Regions from separate parts of the Homo sapiens genome. Here regions 1, 2, 3, 4 and 6 are each linked to region 5. Evidence: fine-mapped expression QTL. A gene starts in region 5. Each other region holds a variant in brackets. All regions are shown on one strand. Distances are from middle to middle.

Evidence for each region. PIP is the estimated chance that this variant, and not a neighbour inherited with it, causes the effect.
Region 1: its variant is fine-mapped to the expression of MAPKBP1 in whole blood (TOPMed, PIP above 0.99).
Region 2: its variant is fine-mapped to the expression of MAPKBP1 in cerebellar hemisphere (GTEx, PIP above 0.99). The same link has a PIP of 0.9 or more in cerebellum.
Region 3: its variant is fine-mapped to the expression of MAPKBP1 in whole blood (TOPMed, PIP above 0.99).
Region 4: its variant is fine-mapped to the expression of MAPKBP1 in whole blood (TOPMed, PIP above 0.99).
Region 6: its variant is fine-mapped to the expression of MAPKBP1 in whole blood (TOPMed, PIP above 0.99).

What each region holds. Positions count from the first base shown.
Region 1 is chr15:41,831,279-41,835,354 of GRCh38, reverse strand. JMJD7-PLA2G4B (JMJD7-PLA2G4B readthrough) reads right to left here. Exons shown (of 25, transcript NM_005090.4): 2 at 462-615; 3 at 132-385. JMJD7 (jumonji domain containing 7) reads right to left here. Exons shown (of 8, transcript NM_001114632.2): 2 at 462-615; 3 at 132-385. Among named protein-coding and RNA genes, the nearest start is that of JMJD7-PLA2G4B, 5.2 kb to the right of the region's middle. The variant G/A (reference allele first, on the strand shown) is at 1,733.
Region 2 is chr15:41,869,116-41,873,200 of GRCh38, reverse strand. SPTBN5 (spectrin beta, non-erythrocytic 5) reads left to right here. Exons shown (of 68, transcript NM_016642.4): 27 at 742-899; 28 at 1,284-1,419; 29 at 1,681-1,826; 30 at 2,641-2,755; 31 at 2,848-2,958; 32 at 3,181-3,360. Among named protein-coding and RNA genes, the nearest start is that of MIR4310, 4.6 kb to the right of the region's middle. RefSeq lists a silencer at 3,187-3,447. The variant C/A (reference allele first, on the strand shown) is at 2,442.
Region 3 is chr15:41,845,575-41,849,659 of GRCh38, reverse strand. JMJD7-PLA2G4B (JMJD7-PLA2G4B readthrough) reads right to left here. Exons shown (of 25, transcript NM_005090.4): 20 at 3,885-4,022; 21 at 3,613-3,717; 22 at 3,278-3,457; 23 at 2,825-2,991; 24 at 2,137-2,323; 25 at 1,517-2,011. The coding sequence ends at 1,800. It overlaps PLA2G4B (phospholipase A2 group IVB), which reads right to left. Exons shown (of 20, transcript NM_001114633.2): 15 at 3,885-4,022; 16 at 3,613-3,717; 17 at 3,278-3,457; 18 at 2,825-2,991; 19 at 2,137-2,323; 20 at 1,517-2,011. The coding sequence ends at 1,800. SPTBN5 (spectrin beta, non-erythrocytic 5) reads left to right here. Exons shown (of 68, transcript NM_016642.4): 68 at 1,032-1,514. The coding sequence ends at 1,044. Among named protein-coding and RNA genes, the nearest start is that of PLA2G4B, 8.8 kb to the right of the region's middle. The variant G/A (reference allele first, on the strand shown) is at 1,995.
Region 4 is chr15:41,678,432-41,682,516 of GRCh38, reverse strand. The region is part of intron 2 of MGA (MAX dimerization protein MGA); the gene reads right to left. Among named protein-coding and RNA genes, the nearest start is that of MIR626, 11 kb to the left of the region's middle. The variant G/C (reference allele first, on the strand shown) is at 2,323.
Region 5 is chr15:41,771,914-41,775,998 of GRCh38, reverse strand. MAPKBP1 (mitogen-activated protein kinase binding protein 1) reads right to left here and starts at 1,515. Exons shown (of 31, transcript NM_014994.3): 1 at 1,389-1,515; 2 at 610-832. The coding sequence starts at 723. RefSeq lists an enhancer at 2,019-2,068.
Region 6 is chr15:41,637,200-41,641,284 of GRCh38, reverse strand. It overlaps a transcript of MGA not described here. Among named protein-coding and RNA genes, the nearest start is that of MGA, 21 kb to the left of the region's middle. The variant A/T (reference allele first, on the strand shown) is at 1,759.

The DNA.
Region 1 (4,076 bases), 59 kb before region 5:
TTAGTGAGCTGCACCAGATGCTGACAGGACCAAGCCCATAGGCCAGGTCATCACCTAAGGGCAAACAGGCTGACCCCCCTCCTTCCCATATCTTCCCTGTCCAGGGCCACGACCACCCCACCTCCACTCACCCAGGGCTTCGGAGGCCCAGGGCACATGGGATTCCAGATCAGGCAGCAGCTGGGGCAGCTCGCTGGGCAGGTTGGAGCACTGCTTCTGCACATAGAGGACTCCAGGGTGCTGGGCCCGGCCCTCCAGCACATCCAGCACGAAGCTCAGGGGCAGGCGGCGCTCAGCTGGCATCATGAAGCGATCCCCTCTCACGGCATCCGCGTAACCATCTGGGGTCACGGCCACACTCACCTCTGTGGAGCCCACTGTGGCTCTAGAGGAATGGACACTCAGCCCATGCCCAGATGCCAGTAATCACTGCTCACACCTGACCCCAGGGCAGCTCCCACCTGAAATAGGGGAGGGACCACTTCTGGAGGGCCGGCCAGTGCTGCAGAGCGTTGCGGATAATGCACGGCCTGTTGGGGCAGACCCAGTCCCGGTAGAAGTGGAGCGGAGTTGGGGGTTTGTCCAGGTAGGGCACAGCAAGAGGCACGCAGAGCTCTGAGAGAAAGAAGAAGACAGGGGATGGAAGGGCTGATGTCTGCAGCACCCAGTCCCTGCCCAAGAGATGCCCTCCCTGGAAAGGCCGCGCTGTGTCACTGGGAAATGCTCGTTGGTGACCAAAGGACCCTGGACAACCAGTAATAGAAAGATGAGGACGGAAAAATGAAAGCAGAAAGCATCACGCACACACACCAGCATGGGCCCTGACCGTCCACAGGGCCAGAGGCTGCTACCCAGCCCATAAGCCAAATCCCCTGTGGGGCTGTGTCTGCACAGTGGACCCTATGCCTTCCCACCCTGGAGAGGCCAGCCTCCTAGCATCTACCAGGAAAGGCCACCATGGAAGTGGCATTGGGAGCTCCAGAATGAGTAAGGCTGAGGCCCCATGGCCACGGGCTATTCTGGGTGTTGTGTGGCTCTGGGAAGCCCCCTTTAACAGTGACATTTACTGAGCACCAGGAATGTGCTCAGCACTTGGCTTGGCTAATCTGGGGCTATCAGGGATGACACAATCATCATCTTAAGAAATTTACAACCTTCTTACCCGGGAAGACAAACTACCAGATGACACCAATGGAGGAAAAGGAAGGGCTCGGCTATGGTTTGGGTCCTGCTGAACAGCATCACCATCTCCAGACACCCAGGGCCACCACGTACACTTCGGCAGGCTGCGTGGTGTGCCGCCTGCGCAGGGGTCTACAGTGGCCCTGTGTCACCTCTAATCAAAATCTTTTTGACTCAGCTTTCTCCTTCACTCCCGTCATCCTACTGATTGGCTCTGAGTCCTGTTGATTCTGTCTCCTATGTCTCTCAAACCCACCGTCTCCTCTCCTCCACTGGCATCCACATTCCAGCTACCTCCTTTGGGTCCTCACTCAAATATCACATTGATAAGACTTCCTTCTCTGACTATACTTTCTAAATTTATAATCTGTCCCCCTGCTGCAAATCTTTATATCCCTTTCCGTATTTTTTCTCGTTAGCATTCATCACCATCTGACATGCTATATATTTTAGGGCTAGACGTGGTGGCTCATGTCTGTAATCCCAGCACTTTGGGAGGCAGAGGCAGGAGGATTGCTGAGGCCGGGAGGTCAAGACCAGCCTTGGCAAC[G/A]TAGGGAGACCCCATCTCTACAAAAAAATTAAAAATTAACTGGACATGGTGGCATGCACCTATACTCCTAGCTACGCTAGAGGCTGAAGCCAGAGGATCACTTGAGTCCAAGAGGTAGAGGCTGCAATGAGCTATCATCGTGCCACTGCACTCCAGCCTGGGTGACAGAGCAAGACTTTATCTCAAAAAAAAAAAAAAAAAAAAAAAATATATATATATATATATATATGTATTTCACCTACATAAACTGTTTATCATTCTTTCACCCTTGCTAGAATGTGAACTCCACAAGGGCAGAGACAGTTGTCTGTTCACTGATGCACCCCTGGGACCTAGAACAGTACCTAGCACATAGCATGTGCTCAGCAAGTATTTGCCTAATGTTGAATAAAAGTCTCCAGTATCCTGGCTGGATGGTTGCAGTAGTGAACTAGCTGGTTTCTCTGGCTTAATTCCACTCCCACCCAAAGCATTCATCATCATAGCCCCAGTCATCTTCTGAAAATACAATCTCATATTGTCACACCCCTAGTAACAAATGCCTTGATGGCTTACCACTGCTCCTTAGAGAATGCTGCCTGCCTTGGCACGCATGACCAGGCCCAACCTACTCTTCCAGTCTGATTTCCTGTCTCGTGCCTGCCCTTGCCACACACCCTCTATTCAGGTGGTACCTTTGTTCCAGCTGCTCACTCAGACTGGAGTGTCTTTCTACTGGTTTTTATAAAGTGTACAGGGCTTCGCTTTGCTACATTCATGCTCTAGGTCGAGCCAGAAGGCCGTGGTTCCCATTTGGTGGTTACCACATGCTGCTCCAAATGGTCCCAGCACTGATGTTCACCTCTGAGGTTACGCTGCACCTCTCACAGCAACACCATGCCAGTCACCTTTACTTTCTGATCAGTTGGAAAGTGAATGTTCTTAGATCAAATATTGTAACTGAGTGAGAAGACCCCACTGGGCCCAGGAATACTGGAAAGGAAAGAGTTGGTGTGCCTGCTTGCTTCCCTGGCTAGAGGCAAGATGGCACCCATCCAGTAGATATGGAATCCAGGAGACAGCAAAGTGGCAAAGGCCTTCCCAGTCACGCCAGCCCATCCAAGCAGTCACCTTGAGAGATGGGGTGGTCTGGGGCTCAGTACATCTTCCTGTTGTACTCGCTGAGATTAAGAGACAGAGTCTTGCTCTGTTGCCCAGGCTGAAGTGCAGTGACGCAATAATAGCTCACCGCAGCCATAAACTGTCACGGGATCTTTGGGGTGTTGCTTTACCAGCTGGAAACCTCTGTGGCCAGTGATGCCTTTGCCTGTTTTGCTCGGGCCCATTGGGCCCACTCGGCCCTGCAGGCTGTGCTCAGCTCATGCTACCGGCCTGGATCCCACACCTGCCAAGGGCGAGTGGGGCAGCGAGGGGTGTGTGAGCGAATGAGTGTGGGGTTTGGCCACTGCGCACAGCTAGGCATGTGGGCTGCGGTGGGGCAGGCAGCTTCAGGTGCCAACACAGGTGCTGGTTTCCTGCAAGGCTGCAGCTAGACCAGGTGTACCATAAGCAGCTTCCACAGCTGACACTGGGAAGCATGGTGGTGCCTGGAAGCTTGCAGATACCAGGAACCGCAGAGCCCTAAAGAGGGTGTCAGAACCCCAGCTTGGGAAGCTCCTGGGTCTGGACTCCCCAAAGGGCCGCAGTTCTTCTTTCCTTCTGGACACCCACAATGTGGCGAGCAAGACGCATGGTTCAGTCCTCTTCATGTTACAGCTCTTTTAGCCCCGCCACTCAGCAGGTCCCAATTCTTGTCCTGCATCCAGGAAGAATGAGGTACACACAGACAAGCAGAGGGTAAACAAGACAAAGAGGAGCTTTACTGAGCCATAGGATAGCTCAGAGGAGACCCACAGTGGGCAGCTCCTCTCCGCAGCCAGGGTGTCCCAACGAGTGTTCAGCTCTCAGCAAAGAGGATAGCTCCTCTCTCTGCAGGCAGGTAGTCCTGTTGAGTGTTCAGCTCAGCAGAGCTTTGTTCCAGCTGCTCACTCAGACTGGAGTGTCTTTCTGCTGGTTTTTATAAAGTGTACAGGGCTTCGCTTTGCTACATTCATGCTCTAGGTCGAGCCAAAAGGCCGTGGTTTCCATTTGGTGGTTACCACATCCTGCTCCAAATGGTCCCGGCACTGATGTTCACCTCTGAGGTCACACTGCATCTCTCACAGCCACACCATGCCAGTCACCTTTACTTTCTGATCAGTTGGAAAGTGAATGTTCTTAGATCAAATATTGTAACTGAGTGAGAAGACCCCACTGGGCCCAGGAATACTGGAAAAGAAAGAGCTGGCATGCCTGCTTGCTTCCC
Region 2 (4,085 bases), 97 kb before region 5:
ACCTTTCTCCTCTGTCAAGGTCACCTGCCCAGCCCGCTCCACATCTCCCACAGGTGTCTTCCTCCCAGGCTTTACCTGTCATCCTTTGAGTTAACCAAATGCCCTTCATGAAGCCGACCTCCTCCCACAAACATCCCCTGGCTGAAGGGAGGGAGGTCTCGAAGTCCCCTTCCTCACTCCTGAATTCGGACTCCCAGAACCACACAAGCTTCAAAGCCTGGAGCCCACGGCAGTCCCGGTTCCTGCTGTCACTGAACTGTCCTCCTGTCTGGGCATGTTTCCTGCACAGCCCCAGTTCCAGTGTGTTCTGCGACAGGACCTTCAGAGAAGGTCTTTCTAAAGGCCTGTAGCCTTGGCCTCACGGAGCACCCATCTCCCGGCTATACTGGACAGCTTGTTTAACTCTGCCTCTCTCTTACACATGGATGTTGGGGTCCAGTCTAATGCCTCCTGTGCCCTCCCTTCCTTGGCCCAGATTAGCCAGCATTCACCTTTCCCTGCTAAATAATGAGCCCTCAGTGGGCACAGACCAGGTGTTCACTTTATGGAACAATAAGTACTTACTCCATCAGTAATGGGTAGATGGATGCTGGGTGGGTGGATGAATGAGTTGAGGTAGATGGATGGGCGTGTGAGTGGTGGGTGAATGGATGAGGATTGGTGACTGGATGGGTGGGGGACGGACAGGTGGGTGGATGAGTCACCCAGGCTGAGCCTGGCATGGGTCCTCATGCATCATAGGCTCTACAGGAGGAACTAGCCATTTACTGGAGCTCCATGGAGGAGCTTGACCAGACGGCCCAAACCCTCACTGGCCCCGAAGTCCCTGAGCAGCAGCGTGTGGTGCAGGAGAGGCTCCGGGAGCAGCTGCGGGCACTGCAGGAGTTGGCGGCCACACGGTGAGGACACCATAACCCCTCTCATCAGTGGGTACAGGAGGCCTAGCCACAGCTGACTGTTCCCATGCCATGGCCCAAAGTCAATCAGAACCCATGACCCCAGGCTGTAGAGATGCATTGGGAAAAGGGTGTGTGTTGCTCACCTCTTTCCATAAATTCTTCAGTGAGGCCCCACAACTCCCTGCAGTCCATCTCCCCACGTCCACACCCTCCTCTGCCCCTACACCTGCACTGCTGTGTCTACTACTCCCTGAATCGTGAGCCGCAGGCTTGGACAGAGACCATGAGTAACCCCAGTTTTCAGATTGGCCCCTCTGGCTGGCCCGACTGGCCCCCAGGGGGGTGGGCAACTCACTTCTGGGGAACCACGGACTGTTACCACAGGGACCGGGAACTGGAGGGGACCCTGAGGCTGCATGAGTTCCTGAGGGAGGCTGAGGACCTGCAGGGCTGGCTGGCAAGCCAGAAGCAGGCAGCCAAAGGAGGGGAGAGCCTGGGAGAGGACCCCGAGCACGCCCTGGTGAGAAGAGGGCCAGGGTCAAGGAGGGTGCCCTGAGGCAGAGCCTATGGGGTGGGGAAGCTGGCTCTGGCGGGGCGGAGGAAGAAGGTGGCAGCAGAGCGGTGAGCCCTGGCTGAGGTGGGGCCTCCTCAGTGGAGCGGGCAGACGCCGTGGCTATCCAAGCCCACATCACCCAGTTGGGCACTGAGGTGCCTCGATTCCCAGGCTGCTTGACGCCTAACCAGCTGGGGGCTACCCTGTCACCCACTCCCCTCTTCTCAGCACCTCTGCACCAAGTTTGCAAAGTTTCAGCACCAAGTGGAGATGGGCAGCCAGCGGGTGGCCGCCTGCCGGCTGCTGGCGGAGAGCCTGCTAGAGCGTGGGCACAGTGCTGGCCCCATGGTCCGTCAGAGGCAGCAGGATCTGCAGTGAGTGCCCAACGGGCCAGGCCAGCATGGGGTTTGGGGGAAGGAGCTGGGCAGGCAGGGCCCAGAGTGGTAAGAGAGGATGGCATGCTGTGAGGGCCACACTGGCCCTGGCTGCCCACGGGGCTCTGCAGGGGGCCTAGCTCCAGAGAAGCTGAGCCCGCCACAGGCTCTGGTCTGTGAAGGAAGGTGAGGCTGGGTGTGCAGGTCAGAGTCCTGCCCCCAGGATTGAGAGCAGGAGCTGTGGGAAGATGGTGGGGCCAGACATCAGGGCCTTCCCCTGAGCTACCCCAGCTCCTGTGCTCACTCGGGACAGCCCATGCCTCGTGTGGTTCCTAGCTGTCCACTTGGCTGATTTGGATCCACTCCCAGCCTGTGAGCTTTGAGGCAAGGTCATGACTTGCTCATAACCCCTAGCCCAGAGCCTGGCCTGGCAGAAGCCTTAGGAGCTCAGCCAGTTGCAGAGTTAGCGAGGAACGGAGAGATGTGGCCTCTGCCCACAAAGCGTCTGTGATCATAACCTGGGTGACGCACTGTGAGTCAAAGCACAGGATGTAAAGAGTATCACAGCACAGATACCATGCAGTGCCGAGCATTACAGCAGCAAAGCACTGAATT[C/A]ATGGTAAAGCTAGAAGACAGGCTCCCAGGAAGAAGGTGCGTAGGCAGGGCCACAGGCGGGAGAGGTTTTAAGAAGGAGGAGCTTTGGGCAAGTCCCGATACAACTCAGAGAGGAGCGGGCTGACCAGACCTAGCGGGAGGGAGGAATGACACGGCCCGGCAGCTGATCCCCGGCTGGTCTTCCACACGCCGTGGGCAGGACCGCCTGGTCGGAGCTGTGGGAGCTGACCCAGGCCCGAGGCCACGCGCTCCGAGACACCGAGACCACCCTCAGAGTTCACAGAGATCTCTTGGAAGTCCTCACCCAGGTCCAGGTGTGAGCCGGAGGGGTGGCTAGAAGTGGATACACTCCAGGCTCAGTGCCCACGCTCCATCCCTCATCTCCTCGGCATTCTCCCTTCCTCAGGAGAAAGCCACGAGCCTCCCCAACAATGTGGCACGGGACCTGTGTGGGCTGGAGGCGCAGCTGAGAAGCCACCAGGGGCTGGAGCGAGAACTCGTGGGCACCGAGCGGCAGGTGAGCCCAGCTGGCTGCCTCTCCGACCCAGGCCCCTGCAGCCCCCTCAGGCTGGCCTGCCTGTTCCTCTAGATTTTCCACTGTCCCTCAGGGCCTCCCATGGGCCTCCTGTGCATGGCAGGACGTGGCCCAAGGGGGCCAGAGTTCCCAGGCAAGGGATACATCTGTGGGATAATCAGGAGGACATGACCCTTGCCTCCCTATTCCCTGCCCCTCCCGCAGCTGCAGGAACTGCTGGAGACTGCAGGCAGGGTGCAGAAGCTGTGTCCGGGGCCTCAGGCCCATGCGGTGCAGCAGAGGCAGCAAGCTGTGACGCAGGCGTGGGCAGTGCTGCAGCGACGCATGGAGCAGCGCAGGGCCCAGCTGGAGCGGGCACGCCTCCTGGCCCGCTTCCGCACGGCGGTGAGGGCTCCTGCCCTTTGGGTGGTGTGTGTGTGCATGTGTGTGTGCTGCACCATGCATGGGCATGCACGCATGAGGCCCTCCAGCTCCGGAGGGAGAACAAGCATGGACTTGGGTGGGAGAGCACGAGCACACGGGATGTCAGTCTGGCTGGTCAGGGGCTGAGCACATGGGCATAGCAGTGACACCTTAGGGTCTGGGTCAGTGCCAGCAAGGTGAGTGGCAGGGCAGTCATGCAGGGTCCCAGACAGGGCTGGGAGTAAGAACTGCCCAGGAAAGCTCATAACTGGAGACCCAGATGTTAGACAGTGACCTCTGGATCAGTCAGTATCTATTTAATGTCTGTCTTCAGCTCCCTGCTGAAGCCACGGGTGGAGAGAGGAGGGCAATATAGAAGCTATGGAAAGTGGAACTGCTGCCCTCATGGAGCCCTGCTTCCTGGGGAGATGAGCCCGAAACCCAGAGAATCAGACTGGGACAGTAGGTCCTGGCCACGGGGTGTCCCCGGCATCCCACTGTCCTGGGACCTGGCAGACCAGGAGGCCCAAACTGACACTGCAAAAAGGCTTGAGTTTAGGGACCTAACTCTGCTGATTTGCTAGCAGTGTGAGCTTGAGCAAGGCACTTAACCCTGGGTTTGTCATGCACTTAGAGTTTACAAGACTCTTTCTGCCATTTACCCTTCCTTCCTCCATGCAATGAGACATTTGGACAAGGGCCTGAAG
Region 3 (4,085 bases), 74 kb before region 5:
TCCCCTCCCAGGGCTCACTCCAGGCTCTAGTGTGGGGACCCTGTAGACGAAGCTGCCCAGGCTCCCTGTGCCCTTCCTGCTCGGCTGCTTGTGGGAGGAGCAGCCAGGTTTCCCTCTGCCCAGTGCTGAGAGCCTGCCTGGGTTTGTTTCCCATGCACTCCTCACTTTCCTCCCTCCTCTCCCCTCTCCAAGGCACAGCACATTGGCAGGACGGCCAGACCCTGCCCCACCCTTGTTCCAACCCGTTCTCTACCTGGTCCTCCCCTGCTTTCCCCAATCCCCACTCCATGGCAATGGAGAGGTCCAGCATGTCCCGGCCTGCAGGCCAGGGAGGAGATGCGAAGGTGGATGTGCAGGGGCAGGAGGCTCTTACCTGGCTCCTCAGTCCCTCCTTGTAGATCCCAGCATCATTTCGATGCTCAACCCCCCTCACCCACATCTCCTTCCCTTCCAAACCAGAGGGCTTCAGGCTCTCCAGGGGGAGGGGACACCTGAGGTTAGGTGAAAGTGGAGGAGGGACTGGAGACAGGCAAATCCTCCGTGCATGGGCCCCATGCCAGGATGTGCCTAGATGTGCACACGCATATACAGCCGTGTGCCTGGAGGGCTCATACCATGAGGGGTGGCAGCCACGGCTGTGGTCTCCAGTGTAACCATCTGCTCCCAGTCCTGCAGAGCCCAATATATGATTTAGATGATGTGTTGCTGACGGGACAGGCCTTGTCCTGGACACAGTGGCTCCTGAGGCTACCAGGACAGCCATTTTTTCTGCTGTCTCTAACCCAGGGCTGGGGCTGCTAGGCCAGCTGACAGACGTAGAGTTGGGTTATGAAAGTCGAGGCAACTCCCACCCACTCACGCGTCACTGTGGTCGCTGCTGCAGCGCCTGTCAGTCAGCTCTGGAATCCACTCCCACGCTTATTCTAGGAGGCTGGCTGGTCCAGGGGAGGGCAGGGGCACCAGTGTGTGTTTGTTTGGAGAAGATTCTGGGGTGGCCATACCCTACTAAATTCATTCCGTTTTCCCAACAGGTCTGATCCCTGAGGTGAACCCCAGTGCAACACCAAACTTCAGGGGCACAAGCGAGGACACATCTAAGGGACCAGAATAAGACTCAGCTACAGGCAAAAGGGCTCCTTCCCGTGGCTGCTTCAACCCAGTTCCCCAGGCCCAGCTTCTGGAATAGACAGTTCCTTCTGGTTAGATGGGTCCTACCATGTGGCAGGAAACAGCCATTGCCTGGCCTCCCCCTGCATTCCTGTCTGGGTGAAGAGGAGACGTGTTACGGCAGAGCAGGTGGGCAAGGCCAGGGCTACCCCAGGCCCATGTGGCCTCCTCCTTGCTTGGAAGGGGTGACTCTGAGCACAGGTAGACGCAGACGTGTGCAGAGAATGTGCTCTTCGGAGGAAGAACACTGATGAGCGAGCTCTGTACCAGCCCTTGCCATGTACAGCCAAGAGCCTAGAATGACATGGCCCTTCTCAGCAGTAATAACAGATGGTCTCAGCGCCTCACATTTGTATGAGTCTGTGATGTATCAAGTGCTCCAACTACTCAAGGTAGCGCAGAAGGGAAAACAGGCACAGGCCGGGGGGTTTTGGGTGATTACACAAATGGGCTTGGCCTCCTTACCCCACTGCAAACTGCTGAGGCGCAAGGGAGCTCCCAGCCCTCAGCCTGGACCCTGGGACCGTGCCACCTGAGCCCGAGGCTCTGAAGCACTGCGTGATGACAGTTCCCACCTGCAACTCAGCAGCCAGGGAATGAATGAGAGTTAGGGGTGGCAGGGGCCCCGGCCATCAGTGGGGCCTGCGCTGCCGCCTCCGCTGCACTGCCTGGCGCAGAGCCTCCAGCAGCTGCTCCTGGTTGTTGCAGACATTGTAATGTGTCAGGTGCAGCAGCTTGTCCACGTCCTCCTGGCTGTAGGTCACCTTCGTGTAGTGGTAGGGAGAGTCCGATGAAGACAGGTTCACCTCCCCAGCTGCCGCCTCCTC[G/A]GGTGTCCGCCGGACCCCTGTGGAGAGAGTGCAGCCTGGCATGGGGAACACGTTGTGGGGAAGACAGGTTTGGAGAGGCACAGGGGACGGAGGAGGTGTGGGGGACTGGGGCAGCAGGATGGGGAGGTGAACAGCAGCTCACCAGGGGCCGAGTACTCCCGGAAGGAGTCGCTGACCAGAGGAAAGTGCAGCACCGCAGGGGCTCCGGGGCAGGTGGGGTCGGAGAAGGTGTGGCACTCCCGAGGCTGGAGCTGCTCTTCGGGGCTGGGCGAGATGGGTGGGAACGGGATCCCCTGCTCCTGGCAGAACCGGCCCAGGAGCTGCAACTGCTGCAGGGCAGGCAGAAGGGGCTTCAGAGGGACAGGGCCCCTGGCATCCTCAACACTGGGGCTGACGTAAGATGCACAGGACCTGGGGCTCAAATGCCAAAACGGTCTCCAGTGGGGCCTATGAAGCCAGTCGTTGGAAAAAAACTCTCCACACCTGACAGGCCTCGGTGGCAGCTCCTCTGGGGCTAGACGGAGCCGGGTTACTCCCAGCATTCCAGTTCTGACACTGGGAGCCAAAGCAGACTCAGCAGGTGGGCCCAGAGGCCCAGGACCACACCTCGCAGGTCAGTAAAGGGGACCCAGCTACAAGATACCAGGAGAACCTCGCCAGCCTCCCAACTTCCGGAAAAGAATGAGCTCCTCTGGTGGCAAATTAAGATTCCAGTGTCCCAATCACAGCTCCTAAAGGAAGCTGAACCAGACACTGGACTCCAAAGCCCCTCTCTTCAGGGGACAGGGGCCACCCACCGCCTCCCTGGTGGGCTGCCCACCCTTCCCAACCTGGAAGGCTCCGTGGAGGTTGTAGTCCAATGACAGGATGAGGTCCACGTCCCGAGTGGGCTGCAGGAGGGGCAGGCAGCTGGTATTGATGAGGTAGCCAACATCCAGCAGGCACAGGTGGGGCTCCGAGGGTGTCAGCTGGTTGGGGAGCCCATCCAGAGTGGTAGCTGGAAGGTTGGGGAGAGCAGCAATTGTCACAGATACCAAGGGTACCAGATTCCTGCTGGAAGGAGAGACTCTGGCCTCTGGTCCCTGCTCTCCTGCTGAACCAACACCCCCACAGCCCTGCAGGTGGGCCCTGGGTCCCCAAGACAAGGAGAAAAAGACCCCTGTTCCAAGTAGTCCAGGGAATCAAGCTCAAAGCAGGAGAATGGGAGTGGACTGTGAGGGGTATCTGGACTGGGGACTCAAGGCTCAGGTGGCCACAGGAGGACTTTGGAGAGAAGCAGGTACCTTTCCATGTGGAGAAGTGAGGATGCTGAAAGTAGTCTTTGTGGAAATGGAGGCCACGCAGGAAATTATGTGTGGCCTGGGCCAGTGGACGCCACGTCAGAAGATCGGTGAAAAACTCAGCTATCCTGCCGGCTGTTGAGGGTGGTTCTTCTATCTTCAGAAGGGGGACCTGCTCCTTGTCTACACAGGCAAGGTGGGGGAAATGGGGACTCCTGCACCTTTATCCCCACCTTGGTGGTGACCCTGGAGGGGGAAGAGGTGTGAACCCCCCGCCCCCTGGTGCAGCCCCAGCTGGCTGCCCCTTGGCACCCTTATGAAGGGCCCGGAGCACTTACCCAGGTTGGCCTGGTTCCTGACCCAGCGGTCCCAGAACTGGCTGGGCTCTGAGGCCCAGTATAAGCTGTCCTGGAGGTTGGCTGCATACAGGTTGCTCCAGATACCTGAAAGAGCGGCCGTGAGGGAAGAGGGCCCCCGACTCTTGTCCCAATCCTACCCTTCCCCATGGCCAGTCCTGGCCCAGGAAACTCTTCTGACCGAGGCTGCCCTCTCACCCAGGACCCATTTTCCCTGCTCGGCCCAGCTTCCCCAGCCTGCCAGTGCCCCTCACCTTCTAAGAAGCAGATGCGGGACTCAGGAAGCCTCTTCATCAGCTGCCCCATAAAGAACTCGGAGCCAAAGAGCTCAGAGGGGATGAAGGCCCCGTACTTGGGGAAGCCGACCTCGTAGGGAGAGAACTCGCACCACTCTGTGAGGAGTCCACGCCTCAGCCTCATGGTGCAGAGCCCTTAGGCACCCACACCCCCACCCC
Region 4 (4,085 bases), 93 kb after region 5:
AGAGCGAGATTCCATCTCAAAAAAATAAATAAATAAATAAAAAGAACCTATATGAAAATAGCAAATGTAAAGTTAGCAGGATGATAGCAAAGGAAAATCCCAAGATGGCAGCTTGGTAGGGGCCTAGAGTACAACCAGATCAGATTGGCAAAGGAGAATAAAGAGCTCCCGAAGAAGTATGCAGAGGAGGTACACACAAAAATTTACTTTCAATAGATGAATATGTGTATGCACATATATGTACGTGTGTGTGTATGTGTATGAATGAACCAAAAGATTTTATTAAATAATGTAGGTAGAAGGGGGGTGCAGTGGCTCACACCTATAATCCCAACACTTTGGGTGGCTGAGGCAGGCAGATCACCTGAGGTCAGGAGTTCGAGACCAGCCTAACCAACATGGAGAAACCTCATCTCTACTAAAAATACAAAATTAGCCGGGCATGGTGGCACATGCCTGTAATCCCAGCTACTCCGGAGGCTGAGGCAAGAGAATCGCTTGAACCTGGGAGGCAGCGGTTGCAGTAAGCCGAGATCGCACCATTGCACTCCAGCCTGGGCAATAAGAGCAAAACTCCATCTCGGAAAAACAAAAAAACAAATGTGGGTAGAATAAGCACCAGTACATATAAACTACAAATATATTTTTTAAAAAAGCAATAATTAACTACTACAAAACAAAGTTATAAAAGAAAATTAACTCATAGCATGACATTTGGCTCAGCAGTATAGAATATTTATCTCATAACATAAAAAAATGGATTATTTGGCCAAGCATGGTGCCTCACACCTGTAATCCCAGCACTTTGGGAGGCCAAGGCAGGAAGATCACTTCAGCACAGGAGTTCAAGACCAGCCTGGGAAACATGGTGAAATCCTATCTCTACAAAAATAAAAAAATTAACCAAGCGAGGAGGCACACACTTATAGTCTCAGCTACTCGGGAGGCTGAGGTGGGAGGATCACTTGAGCCTGGAAGGTTGAGGCTGCAGTGAACTGTGATCACCCACTACACTCCAGCCTGGGCAACCAAGTGAGACTCCGTCTCAAAAAGAAAGAAAAATTAGTTGACCAAAAATTATGATAATGACACTAACAGAATTAAAAAAAAAAAAAAACAGAGTATACTACAAGGATTTAAAAACAGTAACAACTAAACGGCCCATATATTGTACTAGAAAATAATTTTAAATGGATTACATGTAAAATTGATAATTATTTGGCATTATGCATATGACCTAGACAGAGGCAAATACCACAAGAAATAGCTAAAATGGAAAAACTAATTTCCTCTATAAAGAAAACTAGGGGGTGAAAAATGGTAAAGCCAAGTCACTACTATTTTTCATCATAAGTGGTTTTATTTAATCTTTTTACATTATGTATTATGTATTTGCTGTATAATGAGCTTGTCTGGTCTTTGTCCAGGGTTCCTGGTACAAAGCTTCTAAAATCTTTGGTATTTCCAGAGTGACAGAAGGGACTGTCATTCATGAACCCACTGGCTCACACCTGAGTTTAAGCTAATGACATGACCTGTAGTAGACCCCCTAAATAGATCCAGGATGGCACTGGTCTCCAAAAACAACAACACTGTGATTAAAGAACTGGGACTCTGAGCCAGCTCAACCTCTAGGGTGGGGAAAAGAACTGAAGATTAAGTTCAATCACAGATTTTGTCAATTACCCCTATGTAATGAACCCCCAAAATTTTGAATACCAAAGCTTAATAAAGCTTCCTGGCTGGTGAACACACTGATGTCCCAGAAGGGTGATGTACCCTATATGTTTCCATGGGGAGAGGGCATGGAAGCTCTGCATGTGAGACCCTCCCAGACCTTGTTCTTTACGTCTCATTAGGCTGGTCCTAACTTGTATTCTTTACAGCAAAATTCTAATTCTAAATACAGTGTTTTCCTGAGTTCTATGAGTCTAGTGAATTAGTGAACCTGAGAGAGATTGTGAGAATCTCAGGATTTGTAGCCAACTGGTGAAAAGTACAGGTGGCCTAGGATCTCCAGTTGTGGTTAATGTCTCAACTAGGTGCAGTCTTGTTGGGGACCATGCATTTCAACCTATGGAGACCAACTATGGGTTCTTATTCAATGCATCAGGGGGGGTTAAAACAGAATAGTACTATTTTTACTTAATTTTTTAAATTGTAAGGCAACTGTGTACCTCTGAAAAGTTAAGTAGATTAGTAACATTATTGAATTTCCTTTTAAAAATTATAATTCTGACAAGGGCAAAACTAGAAGAAAGAATGCTGCAACAACCTGAGCAATATACTCAAGAGACAGAGTAAGAAATGCATCAAAGTAAA[G/C]AACCAACAATGACTAGTTAGAAAAACGCCTTACCACAGAGGTGGAATACAGTAGGACCATGGTCAGGCAGTTACCATCATAAAGCTATACCAATTAAAACAATGTGATTTGGGCCTTACGTGTAGACAAACTGATCAAGGGAAGAAAACAGTGTCCAAGAATATACACACACGTACACAATCATCTGAGTAACCCCAACGGTCAATAAATAATACAAAAAGGTGTTCAACTTTGCTAATCACTAGAAAAAGACAAACTACAACCATAATGCTCCCACTTTTGCCACTATTTGCCACCTACTACTGAAAGTCCTATTTAGAGCAATTAGACAAGAAAAAGAAAAAAAAACATATTCAAATTGTCAAGGAGTTTGTAAAGATATCTCTTTTAATAGATGGTGCAATCTTATATAGAGAAACTTTCAAAAACCCACATATACACACAAAAAAAACGCACTCAGTCCCCCCCACAACACAACACACACACACAAGCCACTCACTTAATAAACAATTCAGCAAAGTTGAAGGATACAAACTCAACACACAAAAATCAATTGTATTTCTACACAATGAACAATATGCAATACAAAACAGCAATGGGCAATATAAAAAGAAAAGGAAATCACTCAATATATAATAGCATCAAAAAGAATAAAATACTTAGGAATAGATTTAACTAAGAAAGCAAAACACTTTTACATTGAAAACCATAAAAGCATTATTGAAAAAAATTAAAATGGAAAGATATCCCATGTTCATGAATAGGAAGACAACCCAAAGTGTTGAACGAATTCAACAAAATCCTTATCAAAATCCCAACGGGATTTTTCAGAAGTAGAAAATGAAACCTCGGCCCAGCGCGGTGGCTCATGCCTATAATCCCTGTAATCCCAGCACTTTGGGAGGCCAAGGCGGGCGGATCACAAGGTCAGGGGTTTAAGACCAGCCTGGCCAATATGGTGAAACCCCATCTCCACTAAAAATACAAAAAATTAGCCGGGCACAGTGGTGCGCACCTGTAGTCCCAGCTACTCAGGAGGCTGACACAGGAGAATTGCTTAAACACAGGAGGCGGAGGTTGCAGCGAGCCGAGATCACACCACTGCATTCCAGCCTGGGAAACAGAGCAAGACTCAGTCTCAAAAAAGAAAAAGAAAAGAAAATGGAATCTCAAGGGGCTTTAAATAGCAAAAACAATTTTGAAAAATAAGAACAAAGTTGGTGGTCTCACACTGCCCAATTTGAAAATGTCTAGTAATCAAAATAATGTGACACTGGCATAAAGATAAACATAAACATATAGGCGAACAGAATACAGAGAGCTGAGAAATCAATCTGCACATATGTGGGCAATTGATTTTCAACAGGTGCAAAGACCATTCAATGGGAAAAGGACAGTCTTTTCATTTTGTGGTTTTTTTTTTTTTTGAGATGGAGTCTTGCTCTGCTGCCCAGGCTGGAGGACAGTGGTGCAATCTCAGCTCACTGCAACCTCCGCCTCCCGGGTTCAAGCGATTCTCCTGCCTCAGCCTCCTGAGTAGCTGGGACTACAGGTGTGCGCCACCATGCCCGGATAATTTTTTTTGTATTTTTAGTAGAGACAGGGTTTCACTATGTTGGCCACACTGGTCCCCAACTTCTGACCTCGTGATCCGCCCGCCTCAGCCTCCCAAAGTGCTGGGATTACAGGCATGAGCCACAGCACCCGGCCAGGACAGTCTTTTCAATGAATGGTGACGGGAAACTGGATACACACATGCAAA
Region 5 (4,085 bases):
AATGAGATAAGCAATGCTCAAGGGCCATCCAGAACTGTTTTGCTGACAGATATCTGGCTTCTTGCATGTTATTCCTAAGAAGCCAAAAGGCTCCAGTTAGCCTCTTGAAGAGACAAAAAAAATTTGTTTTCACCGTAGGCAAGAGCAATTACCAAGCCAGTAACTCTGACTAGGTGTTTTAGCATATTTCTTTCTGCCACTACAGTCTTACATAACCCCAGCTGTTACGTTAACACCTGCAGCTACATTAGTCACAGCTTAGCCCTTCACAAGGTATGTGTTCCTACTGTCCTCTCCCAAGAAGGGAAACTGAGTCATAGCATATCAACTGGCTTCCCAAGCACATGCTTAGTGTATAGTGAGGCCACAATTGAACCCAGGTGGTCTTCCTACTATTCACCTTTTCTCATGGATGAATCTCAGCATGCCCACCCCTGCTGCTCTTTTTCCTTCAACCTAAAACCAAATCATTGCCTGCAGAGATCATATGTGATCCTTTAGAGTCAACAAGGGCTTCTAGTTATCTTTCCCAAGAAACAGGAAGGTTAACGAGGAACATGGAGCAGGAGAGGGTGGGTTTGGAAAGAGGTGGATCCCAACAGGACTCACCTTGGAGCTGAGGTCCTCTCGTCGGTTTCCTGCCTTACTCCTGCGCAGTTTGATGGATGGAGATCTCAACAGATTCTTGATCCGGCTGGTAATGGTTGACCCTTCCACAGCCATTATGACGAGAAACCCTTTGGGACAGTCCCCGGCCCAGTCCTGGGTCTTGTCTCAACAGCGGCACTGTCTTCCCACTCCAGAGGGCTTCCCAGTATGCCCTCTCACTGACCTGAGATGGCAGAAGCCACCTTAGTATCACAGTGTCTTACCTTCTGCCTAGCGAAGTCTGCAGCTTTTACCTCTGGGTATTGCTCTCACCATTTCCCTCATCCCCACCTTCTAGCCCTGCACAGTTTCTTACAACGTCGGAAGGAAAGGCTCACGAAAAAGGGGGGGAAAATCCTAAGCCACGAAGAAATGCCAGGCCCACGCCCGCCAGAGGCGTTTAACTGGCGAGATGGATGGGATGGGCCCCAGTTGGTCTCGTGGACGATCTGGTTCCCGTTAATGCCCAACTGTTCCCATGGCAACTGTAGTGTCCAAGGGAGGAGGCCGCCGAGACCACCAGGGATTTCCGCAGGCCTGGACACCTGCGCTAGCGCCGGCGGGGACGCGGCGGGGCTCGCCGTAGCCCACAACTCGTTCTGCCACGGGAGCCTCCCTCCCCCACTCCCTATCCTCCAGAGCTCGCTCTCCGCCCTCCACAGCGGCTCTGGACCTTTATCTTTCACCCGCCTCTGAGGCCCCTGCTACTCGTCAGCGCCCCCGTTCGGGCCCAGCCTCACCAGCCTCGGCGAGCTAAGGCCACCCCGCTCACAGCGCCCTCGGGCATCGCGTTCGGCAATTTCAGCTCCGCCGCGGTAGCCGCAGCGGTAGAGGCAGCAGCAGGAGCTATGGTGGCACGATCGGCTCAAAACGCGAACTACCGCCTGGGCCAAGCCGCGGGCTGGGTGGGCGGAGCCGACGCGAGGGGCGCGGCCTGTAGTCAGGAGAGCGCTTCCAGAGTGGACGAGCAAGGTTTACGGGGGCGGAGCCAATGAAAGGGCCCAGGAAGCAGACGGCTTGGGACTAGGGAACCACGGAATCCGCACAATTGCGGGTACCGCTTTTAGAGGAAGGTCAACAGAACATGGCTTCAGAATTGAGAGAACCAAGCCTTTTATGGTATTATCAGGCCTGGTCCCCCATGGAACTGCACTTCCCAGAGCCCCAAGACGATAACCACGCCTCCAGGGTGTTAAGGTTGTCATCTGATAGGCCCGAGGGACCGTAGCTGAAACTCCTAGCTCAGAATTACAAGACTGAGCTACAGCCTAAAAGCTCTGCTCCCAGCGACCACAAGTGTTGAGATTTAAAGCGACTGAAGTAGTTTCTGCTCGCAGCCAGTCCGGCACGTAGACTCAACGTGGAAAGGATTATTCTGAGTAATGCAATTTAATAGCTAAGAACAGTATTTTTGCACTGGGCAACCTGGTCATCATGAAAGGGGAAAGGGTGGCCTTGAACAGAGCTTTGGGCGTGCGGGGGAAAGAGAAGTGAATATGCTATGTTATAATACTTTAGGTTTCATGGCTTCTTTAGCCTCCAACATCCCATTGTGCTTCCTCACCTAAAGCTGACCAGGACTTTGTTGCTCCAGATCTTTTCCTCATTCCATTTACTTATGAATCCTTTTATCTAGGGCTGTTCCTTGCTGAGGTCACTGTCGAGCTTGCTGATACTAGATCGAGGGGTAGTTTTCTAACTCATGTCGGGGGAGGCAGAGGGAATACACGGAAATGTTACATGAAATAGTATTTCCTGAGTATTCTCCACTTGACTACTACCACAAGAAATCACCTTATGAAAAAGCCTAAGCCAGAGACTTGGGTCCCAAGGGAATAGTACACTGGTGTGTCCGTCTCACCCTATCCAGATCTTTTGAATCCCTGTGGAGATGACATGTGTCTGCAAGAGGGAAGAACCTCTAACAAATTATTATACCTTATGAAAAAGCCTAAGCCAAAGACAAGGGACCCAAGGGAGTACTACACTGGTGTGTCTGTCTCACCCTATCCAGATCTTTTGAAACCCTGTGGAGATGACATGTGATAACAAGAGGGAAGAACCCCTAAACTCATTGCTTGTGTACAACGGTGAGCCTTTAGAGCCAAGTGGCAAAGCACATATTTTCTTGTGTATACTGTAGCCACGTACTGAAAATTAGATTTGTAAAGCTCACAAGTTGACATGGAGATGATGGATGTCACCTCCTGGAGACCAACTGGCAATAGCACGTGGCCTTCTTCCCTTCAACCATGCACTGCAAATATTATGAAACAGAAAATACGATTTTCAAATTTATTTCCCAAGTCTGGAAGAAGAAGGCAAGAACCATTAGCTACAATATGCAAGAGGTAGTTGGTTCCTTCAACCTCTTGGTAGTTACATGATGGGACCTCTCCATGGGATTGAAAGCTAATAAATGGTGCCACCTGGTGTCTTTACTTGCATGCTGCAGACCACGGCAGATGCCATCTCCACCCATGAAACTAGAGTAAAAATGTGCCCACAAGAGCCGTCCCTAATCCTCTCCAGATCATTCTGGTGTCCGCTAACGGTTTTCTCACCTGATCACTCATGGCCAGATAAATGGTTTACAAAGTATCACTGGTCATTTCTTTCATGAAAAACAACTGAAAGCATTTTAATGAGGATTTCTTAAGTCTGGAATCTGGGTACTTCCAGTCTTAGGCCAAAGCCACGCTTTTTTTTTTTTTTTTTTTTTTTTTTTAAACAGAGTCTTGCTCTGTCCCCAGACTGGACTGCAGTGGCGATCTCAGCTCACTGCAACCTCCGACTCCTGGTTTCAAGCCATTCTCTTGCCTCAGCCTCCCGAGTAGCTGGGATTACAGGCACGCGCCACCACACCCAGTTAATTTTTGTATTTTTAGTAAAGATGGGGTTTCACCATGTTGGCCAGGAGGTCTCGATCTCCTGACCTCGTGATCCGCCTGCCTTGGCCTCCCAAAGTGCCAGGATTACAGGCGTGAGCCACCATGCCCGGCCCACACATTTTTAATTCTTCACAATTCAGTCCAACTTTTATTGTCTAGGTACTACACTGCCTTTGAGATACCAATATAGGAATAAGCTATATAGGCTATTCCCATTCTTCATTAATTCCTCAGAAAATAACAGTCCCAGGTCTAATGTGAACAGAAGCATTATTCACTTTTCTCCACTCAGATTTACAGTCATGCACTGTATACATTTCAATGACCACATGATCCCATTAAATTATAATATCATATTTTTACCATACCTTTCCTATGTGTAGACACACAAACACCACGTGTTACAACTGCCTATGATATTCAGTGCAGTTAACATGCTGTACAGAGTTGTAGCCTAGGAGCAACACAGCCTAGGTGTGTGGTTAAGCAACACCATCTAGGTTTGTTTAAGTACAGTACACTCTATGATGTTTGCAGAACAAAACC
Region 6 (4,085 bases), 130 kb after region 5:
AGCATTATTCATAGTAGCCAAAAAATGAAAATAACCCAAATGTTCATCAACTGAAGAATGGATAAACAAAATGTGCTGTATCAACACAATGAAATATTATTCAGCCATAAAAATGAATTAAGTATGGATACATGCTACAACATGGATGAACTTTGAAAACATGCTAAAGAGTCTGATCACAAAGGACCTCATTTTGTATGATTCCATTTATATGAAATGTTCCAAAACAGATCAATCCATAGAGATAGAAAGTAGACTGATAGTCACCTAGGCCTGGGAAGACTGGGGGAGAAATAGGGAATGACTGCTAATGAGTATAGTGTTGCTTTCTGGGATGCTGAAATGTTCTAAAATTGTGGTGATGGATGCATTACTATGAATACACTAAAAACCACTGAATTATACACTTTAAATGGGTAAATTTTATAGTACATTAATTTTATCTCAAAACTTTAAAAACTAAGAGGAGGGCAGGCGCAGTGGCTCACGCCTATAATCCCAGCACTTTGGGAGGCCGAGGTGGGCAGATCGTGAGGTCAGGAGTTTGAGACCAGCCTAACTTACATGGCAAAACCCCGTCTCTACTAAAAATACAAAAATTAGCTGGATGTGGTGGCGTATGCCTGTAATCCCAGCTACTTGGGAGGCTGAGGCAGGAGAATCGCTTGAACCGGGAGGCAGACATTGCAGAGAGCCGAGATCGCACCATTGTATTCCAGCCTGGGCGACAGAGCGAGATTCCATCTCAAAAAAAAAAACTAAGAGGAAATACCTACAAATAAATGTTAGACGCTAATGTCACAAAACTAAGGTTCAAATGATGTACAATCTTACATCAACGATAAGAAACTGTATCGCTTCTCTAGGCTCAACAACTCCTTTGTAAATTCTCAGTAACTTTAAGGTTAGTGAGAACTCTAAGACAAACAATGAGCACCAAGTTGCACCTCAACTCCTTAGCTTAGCATATAAGGGCCTCAATACTCTGGACCCAGCTTTCCTTCTTCCTGCTGCTGTATACTCAACTACTCCTTATTTCCTAAATATGCTCCCCGGGTTTTTTTATCTGAACCTTTGCATTTATAATTACGCTGCTTTAGCATCTTCTCTCTGCCTTCGTAGTCCATAAATTCACCAGCATCATTCTCCCTAATCTCCTCCTATTGAAATCATCCTCATTCTTAAAGTCGAGTATTTTCATGAAGCCTGCCTTGATGCCCTTGCTGTGTAAACACTGGCCTTCCTCTAAACCACCAAAGGATACTGTCATTCTCCTTTGGTGCACAGTAATCTAGCTCTCATCATCCTTGACAGATTGGTCAGCACACTCAGAGTCATCTCTCAAGGCAAAAGCTCTACCAACAATGCCTTGCAGATTAAGGAACCTCTTATTTCACCTTCAACTCCTAACTCCACATAAAAACCACATGCTCCTGGGGCCAGGCACGGTGGCTCACGCCTGTAATCCCAGCACTTTGGGAGGCCAAGGCAGGCAGATCACGAGGTCAGGAGATCGAGACCATCCTGGCTAACACGGTGAAACCCCGTCTCTACTAACAATACAAAAAAAAAATTAGCTGGGCGTGGTGGCAGGTGCCTGTAGTCCCAGCTACTCTAGTGGCTGAGGCAGGGGAATGGTGTGAACCTAGGAGACGGTGCTTGCAGTGAGCCGAGATTGCGCCACTGCACTCCAGCCTGGACGACAGAGCGAGACTCCATCTAAAAAAATAAAAATAATAAAAATAAATTAATTAATTT[A/T]AAAAAAAAAAACTACATGCTCCTGACTCCTGTGCCGAGCTAATTAGATAGGGGGATCCAACAGACCTAAAGGTTCTATGAATTAACCATCAGCTTGTGAGGAAAGAGTGCTATGAGAGTTTAGTTAAATAGGAATGACAAACATTCTCTGACTTAAATGTAAAAATGTACTCTCTTATTCCCTCTCAACTGAATGGAAAGTGGGAGGAAAAGACTCACGGAGCTGGAATCAAGAATAGAAACTAAAACATTGCCAGAGAAGGGGCCATAAAATAGTAGAGCCACACAAGAGAAGAAACCATAAGACAAGGAAAAACACACAAAAGAAAAGGGTGAAGTCAGAAGTGGGATGGGACAAGAATAGTATAACAAGAGGGGAAAAAAAGAAGACATTATGATCCCCAACCAGGAAGAGAAGGACAAATTCTCATGCTGAAAGGGCTGAGATGTGAGATCACTTGAGACCTGGAGTTCAAGTCCAGCCTGGGCAACACAGTGAGACCCCCATCAAAAAAAGGTCAGGTGTGGTGGCTCACACCTGTAATCCTAGCACTTTGGGAGGCCAAGACAGGTGGATCACTTGATCCCAAGAGTGCAAGACCAGCCTGGGCAATAAGGCAAAACCCCATCTCTACCAAAAATACAACAACAAAAAATTAGCAGGCATGGTGGCGCAGGCATGGTGGCACGCGCCTGTAGTCTCAGCTAATAGGGAGGCTGAGGTAGGAGAATCACTCAAACTCAGGAGGCAGAGGTTGCAGTGAGCCAAGATCACACCACTGCACTCCAGCTTGGGCAAGAGAGAAAGACCCTGTCTCAAAAAAAAAAAAAAAAAAAAGAAAAAGAAAAGAAAGGCCAGGTAAAATAGCTCACACCTGTTATCCCAACACTTTGAGAGGCCAAGGTTGGAGGATAACTTAAGCCCAGGAGTTCAAGACAAGCAAGACCCCTGGGAAACATAGGAAGACCCCGTCTACAAAAAAAACTTTAAAAATTAACTGAGTGTGGTGGTACATGCCTGTGGTCCCAGCTACTCAGAAGGCTAAGGCAGGAGGATCTCCTGAGCCCAGGAGTTAGAGGCTGCAGTGAGATATGATCATGACACTGCACTCCAGCCTGGGTGACAGAGCAAGATTGTCTCAAAAAAAAAAAAATTCTAGCATATTTTAAAATTAAAAATTAACCCATATCTGGCCAGGCACATGCCCATAATCCCAGCACTTTGGGAGGCCGAGACAGGCGGATCACCTGAAGTCAGGAGTTCGAGACCAGCCTGACCAACATGACGAAACCCCGTCTCTACTGAAAATACAAAAATTAGCCGGGCATGGCAGCGCACACCTATAGTTCCAGCTATTCAGGAGACTGAGGCAAGAGAATTGCTTGAACCCAGGAGGCGGAGGTTGCAATGAGCCGAGATCTCACCACTGCACTCCAGCCTGGGCGACAGAGCAAGACTGTGTCCCAAAAAAAAAAAAAAAAAAAAAAAAAAAAGCTGGGCACAGTAGTGGCTCACGTCTGTAATCCCAGTACTTTGGGAGGCCGAGGCGGTGGACCACCTGAGTTCGAGACCAGCCTGGCCAACGAAACCCCGTCTCTACTAAAAATACAAAAATTAGCCAGATGGGGTGGCAGGCACCTGTAATCCCAGCTACTCAGAAGGCTGAGGCAGGAGAATCTCTTGAAGCCGGGAGGCGGAGGTCGCAGTGAGCAGAGATCACGCCATTGCACTCCAGCCTGAGCAACAGAACAAGACTCTGCCTCAAAAAAAAAAAAATTGTAACCCATATCCCAGTATCCTAACAGATATTCATTTCTGGTTCCTTCTAGCATATATCCACAAGCCATTCAATTTTAAACTGATAATCACTCTATTCTAAAATGAACCCTGTCACCACATTCCCCTCAACCTGGGGGAACTTTATAGCCCCTCTATAAGCATCACAGGAGTCGTTGGACACAATCGGCTTTTCACCACATTCCTTCTGGGAGCCTTTACCTAACAAGTGATTTCAACTCTGCTTATTCAACCCCTCACCCAGAATACAGTCTTTGTTGCCTTTGACGCTAACTTTATAAAAAGGATTTACCACCTCTATGAGATCAAGTAATATACTATTTGAATCTTTAAACCAGTTTCAGTACCAAAACAACTTGCAAAGTCCAGACAATTAAGTCAATCAATAACTTCCAACATTCCCTCTGATCTCTATAATCCCAGGTCACCAAAGACAAAGGCAATATGATACGAACCATGACCTATCTTCCTAATCTGTAGGTCCTCAACCCTGGTTCTTTCCACACTGTCACTGCCCAAATCTTTCCAC